2 linked regions of the Homo sapiens genome follow. The protein of the gene in region 2 purifies or fractionates together with the protein of the main gene of each other region. This does not show direct contact. Each region holds a gene or a part of one and is shown on either strand. Other genes may lie near its edges.

Evidence for each region.
Region 1: the proteins of CCDC172 (region 2) and BBS4 purify together in Homo sapiens (affinity purification with mass spectrometry; 2 studies listed by BioGRID and IntAct, with this or other methods). This does not show direct contact.

The regions. Positions count from the first base shown.
Region 1 is NC_000015.10:72,692,470-72,696,293, reverse strand, and holds part of BBS4 (BBSome complex member BBS4), read right to left. Parts: intron 1,118-3,824; coding exon 1,066-1,117; intron 1-1,065.
Region 2 is NC_000010.11:116,330,878-116,334,701, reverse strand, and holds part of CCDC172 (coiled-coil domain-containing protein 172), read right to left. Parts: intron 1-3,824.

The sequences.
Region 1 (3,824 bases), on a different chromosome or scaffold from region 2:
AATATTATCAGGCAAAGTAGACTTCAAACAAGGAATATTATCAGAAATTGAAGAGGAATATTATATAAAGACAAACGGGTCAATTTACCAAGAAATCAGACAATCCTAAATGTATATGCATCCAACAACAGATCTTCAAAATACACAAATCAAAAATTGATAGAACTGAAAGTAGAAACAAATCCACAATTACATTTGCACACTTCAACACTCTTCTATCACCCTTCCAATCAGTAACTACATCAGTAAGAATATGAATATCTGTAATTGTAAGTATATACAGAACACTATCAACCAACTTGACCTAATTGACATTTACAGAATGCTACATCCTACAAGAGCAGAATACACATTATTTCCAAGTGTACATGGGACATGCACCAACACAGGCCACATTGTGGGCCATAAAACAAACCATATAAAGAATGTTCTCTACCCACAATAGAATTAAACTAGAAACCAACAAAGCAAAAAGATACCTGGAACTTCACAAAGTGGTTTTTCCAGAAGCAGAAAATTAGTACACACTTACATAATAATCAAACCCCATTTAAATAATTTCCAGGTCAAACCAACCTCCTAATATCTAATAACTCTATTAAATAAAAGCTAGATGTGACAGAACATTTAGACTATTACTTCTTTTCCCAACACTCATTTTGAAATAATATAGAATAGATAAAAGAATCAACAAGAGAGAGAAATCTGGCCAGGCGTGGCGGCTCACGCCTGTAATCCCAACACTTTGGGAGGCCAAGGTGGGCAGATCACCTGAGGTCAGGAGTTCGAGACCAGCCTGGCAAACACAGTGAAACCTCATCTCTACTAAAACACAAAAGTTAGCCAGGTGTGGTGGCGTGCACCTGTAATCCCAGCTACTCGGGAGGCTGAGGCAGGAGAATTGCTTGAGCCCCAGAGGCAAAGGTTGCAGTGAGCCAAGATTGTGCTACTGCACTCCAGCCTGGGTGACAGTGAGACTCTGCCTCCAAAAAAAAAAATAAATAAATAAATAAAAGAGAAATCTGTCTGTGCAAACATACACATACCATGAAACTGCATACAGACCTTTTTTCTGCCGGGGTTTTTGAGACTCAGTAGATACAGGAAATTGAGTTCTCTGAAATGAAATAAGTAGTCTATATTGAAGCACCACAATATAAACTTGCTAACTTAAAGAAGCATCCAAATAACAAGAATAATCAGTAGCTCACCAATTATGCAATTAATCCATTAAATCCATATTGTGATAGAGTTACTTTAAATATGGTTTAAAAAACAAATGTCAAGTCATACTTTTGCTATCCAAACTATTAACAATGTATAACACATATTTATAATATTTACAATGTGCATTTTTAATGTATAATTATAGTATATAGTAAAATGTGCATAAGAAATATACTCAGTTCTTAAACACCTCATATGAGTATTATACTTGATGCCATACTTCTCAGCAGCCAAACCAAAAAAGTGATCGCTGTTTGATAAAAGGAAGCTTATGAGATCATCTACACAGAAACTGTCTAGCACTCAATTCTAAAAGGGAGATAGTTATTTTCCACTATAACCTCATAGAAAACCATCAAATGAATTTTTCTTTTCTCAACTTCCTATGACATACCACAATATAAGCAAAAATAATGGCTCAAATTTTTCCAGATGTAATGAGAAACACCAATCCTTAGTTTCTGGATACTCAACAAATCCTGACCAGGTTAAATGAAAATAAATACATACTTAGATACATCATAGCGAACTGCACCAGAGACAAGAAGCAGCTCTTAAAAGCAGCCAAACAAGAAAACATATCACCAGATTACCAACAAAGAAAGGACAGTTATTTGAGAGGCCAAGGCGAGAGGATCACTTGAGGTCAGGAGTTCAAGACCAGCCTGGACAACATGGTGAAACCCCGTCTCTACTAAATATACAAAAATTAGCTCGGCATGGTGGCACGTGCCTATAGTCCCAGCTACTTGGGAGGCTGAGGCAGGAGAATGGCTTGAACTTGGGAAGCAGAGGTTGCAATGAGCCAAGATCGTACCATCGCCCCCCGGCCTGGGCAACAGAGCAAGACTACGTCTCAAAAAAAAAAAAAAAGGAAAGAAAGGCCAGACGCCGTGCCTCATGCCTGTAATTGCAGCACTTTGGGAGGCCAAGGCAGGTGGATCACCTGAGGTTAGGAGTTCAACACCAGCCTGGCCAACATGGTGAAGCCCCATCTCTACTAAAAATACAAAAATTAGCTGGGTGTGGTGGCAGGCACCTGTAATCCCAGCTACTTGGGAGGCTGAGGCAGGAAAATCGCTTGAACCCAGAAGGCAGAGGTTGCAGTGGGCCAAGATCACACCACTGCACTCCAGCTTGGGCGATAAGAGCAAAACTCCATTTCAAAAAAAAAAGAAGAAGAAAAAGAAAAACAAAAAAGACTGACAGCTGGCTCTTCAACAATTAAAAATGGAAGACAATATCACAATAAGACATCATAAGAATAATTACTCCAGTGTCAGGTACTAAGTAAAATGAATGTTAATTTAGACCAGAGGTCAGCAAACTATGGCCCACAGGTCAAATCCATCCTGTTTATTTGGTCTACAAGCTACGAATGATTTTTACATTTTTATATGGTTAAAAAAATTCAAAAAATAATAATTTTTAACACATGAAAATTGAGTCAAATTTCAGTGTCTATAAACAAAATTTGTGAGAACATACCCACACTCATGTTTACATAATGTCTATGGTTGCTTTTGTCCTACAACAGCATTGCTGAGTAGTTGTCAGAGAGACTCTATGGCCCACAAAGCCCACAATATTTACTATCTGGCCCTTTACAAAAAAAGGTTTGCTAACACCTGATCTAGATTCTCTCACCCATCAAAACTAATTTTCAACAACAAAGGCAAATTTTTAAAACTTTCAGAATTTGAGAGTTTTTAGATTCTCACCAAATAAACTTTTAATGAAAATATATTAGGAAAAAGAAAAATAATCCCAGAACAAAGGAGTGGAATAAGCAAAGGAATTGGTAAAATAAGCAAGTATTCTAAGCATCTACTGACTGAATAAAACAAACAAAAAGCATAATTTGTGGTGTTTAATTAAAATACATTAAGAACTACAAAACTAAACAACAATGGCATACATTTGCAGATGGCAATAGATGGTAGTAAAGCATTTGATGGTCCCTGTAGTAGCAACATTTAGGCCTGGACTTACAGTAAACATGTATTTTTTAATTTCTTTGGTACTCATTAAAGGAAGGCAAAGTATAACTTCCAAGGCATGAAATAAGAGGAGCAGAAAGGGAGGGGTAACAGATGGAAATTCAGTTTTTTTAAAAAAAAGAAAGGAGGTAGAAAAAAATGCAATTCTCCAGTTTAAGACAGATAGATCAGCCAGGTGTGGTGGCTCACACCTATAATCCCAGCACTTTGGGAGGCTGAGGCAGGAGGATCACACGAGCCTAGAAATTTGAGAACAGCTTGGGCAAAACAGCGAGACTCTGCCTCTATAAAAAAAACTTTAGAAATTAGCCAGGCATAGTGGCAGGTGCCCTTAGTCCTAGCTACTCAGAAGGCTGAGGTGGGAGGATCTCTTAAGCCCAGGAAGCGGAGTTGCAGCAAGCCATGATTGGACCACTGCACTCCAGCCTGAGGAACAGGCTCAAAACAAACAAACAGCCAGGTGTGGTGGCTCACACCTCTAATCCCAGCACTTCGGTAGGCTGAGGCAGGCCGATTGCTTGAGTTCAGGAGTTTAAGACCAGCCTGGGTAACATGACGAAACCCCGCCTCTACAGAATATACAAAAATTAGCCAAGT
Region 2 (3,824 bases):
CAAAGATGTATGTATACAGTTATCACTGCAATGATGATAGAAACAGTAATTTATTAATACAATAGTAAATACTTATCAATAAGAAATTAGTTAAATAAAATATAGTATTACATTTAATGGAATACTACGCAGCAATTAAAATTGCTTATTTATATATATATTTACTCAGATGTCTAGGTTACAGTAAATAGAAAAAAGCAAATTATTTAAGAAAAATATAAATCCATTTAAACAATTTTGAAAGAAAACCTATGAAAATGTTAACCGTGTGGTGGAATTATAGGTGATTTTCACTCTGCTTTTTGCCAATTTCTATTTTTGGAATAATTTGCAATAAATAAACACTACTTTTATAAAGAGTTAAAACAATCAAACTATCTTAATTTTGAAAAGTAATCTACTGCATGTTCACCAAATATAATGGTAGAAGGCCTCAGAATTTCCCAGGAATAAAACCCACTTTTCCAGTAGGAACATAAGCGAGAAATCTTAGTAAAGACGGGGAGGAGCGGGAGCTCAGAACGAAAAGAACATTTTAGAGTAATAATCTGATCCATTTGCTCACTGTGGTGGTCCCATCTCTCCCTTTCCTTCCTCTATCTCTCTTGGGAGGAATTTTTAACCAGAAGAAATTAGACTACATTTGAAACTGTGGAACTCATCTGAACAAAGGAAACTGAGGTATACAGCCTTTTAACTTATCTTGAAATATGAATTCAGGCAATAACAATCCATGAGACCATATATGCAACAAAGCCTACACGAGAAATTCTTCCTATCAGCATCAGATCACAGGTACAGCTGTAAGTCGCCAGTTGCCTTTGATCCTTCCCACTCACCTTTTCAGAACTCACCTCCTGTTCCAAAGTCCACAGTCAACTCTTTTCAAAATAACCCCTAAACTGCAAAATTATTCTTCCTCTTTTCCTCAAATAAAACTCCTATTCCTCCAAAGCTGCTCATCTCAGCGAGACAGTAATCTGATTAGGGAAAGACCAGCAAAGCACAAATACTGACCGGTCAAGAACATCTTGTACTGATACGTTTTAATCTGAAAGACTCTTCCTGGGGAGCAACTTTAAAGTAAGATAACTTCTGTGTTATTTGACAACTCAGGTGGCAGTACCTTACCTTACCTATCACCACACATCTTAGGATACAAAACAAAGGGATGCTGAGGTAGTGTTTATTCATGCACTGCTTTTAATGGAAGAACTATAAAATGTCACACATTCTTTAAAACATACATCTTCCTCAACAAATAAGAAAACTTGGCACATGTGCAAGAAATAATCATATCTCAGGCAATAAAGCTACACTACAAGAACACTAGAAATTGGGCTGGGGGTACTCACATCAGCTTGTCAATCAGCTTTAGCTCTAAGAAAGTAGTTGATTCTTCCAGTATTCAAGAAAATGAGAACAGGACAAAAAACAATTTATATATTGTATTTATAGGCAAATTGCAGGTCTGAACAAATCTCACAGAATAACAACATGAACCCTATGAAAAATACTGTTAACAGAAGAGATAAAGAGAATTATCCAAAAGATTACAGTGAAGAGCACAGGATGAAAAAAAAATTGTAATCAATTACTTACTGTTCTTAAAAGGATGCAAACAAAGACATGTCCACTAGAAAACAAGAGCAAGGAAGGACATAGCAGAGAAAGATAAAAACAGAACAAGCTGAAATTTTTAAAAATTAGAGTGTTAAAAAAGAGAAGACAACACATGATTTAAATTTGCAGAGAGCATTAAATAACTAAAACTAATACTGCAAAAAATAGAATTAGGGATGTAAAGGATACAAAGTTTTCCCAGACTTCTGAGGATTCAATTCAGAGAAAAGAGAATAAAGCTCTTCTAAATTATAAGAAATGGGTGTATTGAAAACAAACTCTATGAAATAATAGCTGAGGTTAAAATGGAAGGCTCACCCTTGTTCCAGAAAAAAAAAACCATATCTGTACCAAATTTGGAATTATAGATTGTTTAAAATCATAAAAGCAATCAGGGAAGAAAACAAAACCTAACAGGTTACCTTAAAATAGGATTTTTAAAAACCAGGTTGACTTCAATACTTCTCTTCTGCATTAATAAATTTCAGAATATAATAGTGCTAGATCCACAAAATGTTGTAAAAAAAGGTTTGACTCAATAATTCTGTACAGACAAGTTTCCATGCAAGTGTGAAGATAACAGAAATTTCAGATATTAATAGCTTAGAAGATCTGTCATTCACAACTTCCTCCTACAAAATTACAATTACAGACTCATCAAAAAACAAATAAAAAAATAAGAACTCAAGAATGACAACGTGAGGCATTGAAGAGTTTTATAGTGCAGAATTATGGTTAATATGGCAGTAAAAGCAAAAGTAGAAAGGACTTACTTTCTACTCCAAACAAAGAGAAATGCTAGATAAAATCTAACTACATTTAAAATATTTATCATTTACATAGCTAAGCCAAAAGGAGGAGGGAAATCTTCATGCAAGAAACAAATAGACAGCTCAGTGTAAGGATGGTGATAAAATTCAAGCCCACAGGAGCATCTTTCAGAAAGGATACAGGCATTAGGGATTAGGCTTTAAATGCCCACATAAGAACAAAAATCACAGGCAAAGAGAGCCAGGGTTGGACTCATTGTACTGCCAGGAATTGAGAAATATCTATGCCAGTTACGAAAGATGGATAAAAAACTCCACCTGTTGCCCTAGAGATGCAGTGTATAAGTGAGCTATATCCCATTGAGCCATGAGTGGAAAACGAGTCATATCCTGAGAATTTGAACCCTGAGATTCTCTTATCCATACAGTGCAGAAATCTTGAGCTCAGAATTTAACATAAAAACTGGTCCTTAACAGGGGAAACCTGTGAGGCCCTGGCAGCAGGGGTGAAACTGCTTCTTAGGGACATCTTTTCTATCAAAGGAATATGTCGAACAGCCAGGAGAGATAAGTTCTTCTAAAGATAAGTTCAATAAAATAAAATCAATAATAAATCTTAAAGTTAATAAGAAAATCTACCACCATGTAAGAAAGGCATCAAATCAAACAAGTAGAATTCAAGGCAGAGGAAAATAGAAAACAGGATTCTATGAGAAAAATTTTAACTTATTCACTCACTAAATGTCTGTTTAATACCTACTATTATTCAGGCACTGTTCTAGATGCTGGGAATAACAGCAATGAACAAAATAGATTAATTTCTATCCCTTGTGGAGCTTACATTCCACTGGAGGGAGACAAATAATAAACAGATCAATATAAAATATGCCAAGAGGTGGTACATATCACACAGCATAGAGACAGGGAGAGATGGTAATGCTATTTTATATAGGGAGGTCAGGGAGGGGCCTCTACAGAGAGGGGGCCTCAAATTTTTGGGTCTTTTGACCTCTTCATAGTCTAAAAAATTATTGAGAATTTCTTTTTGTTTGATTGTTTTCATGAATTATATCTAGAAATATTTTCTGTATCAAAATTAAAACTGAAAAATTTTTAAACATTAATTTAATAACAATAATCCTATTGCATTTTAAATACCACATTTGTATTGAAAAATGACTTTCCAAAACAAAAACAAATTAGAAAAAGGAGTTGCATATAGATTTTTTACAAATCTCATTAACATCTGGCTTAATGGAAGACAGCTGAGACCAGGTTTGGTGGTTCACGCCTGTAATTTCAGAACTTTGAGAGACCAAAGTGGGAGGATCACCTGAGGCCAGGAGTTCAAAACTAGCCTGGGCAAAATAGCAAGACCCTGTCTCTAGAAAACAATATATTTTTTAAATTAGCCAGGTAGGGTGGCAGAGG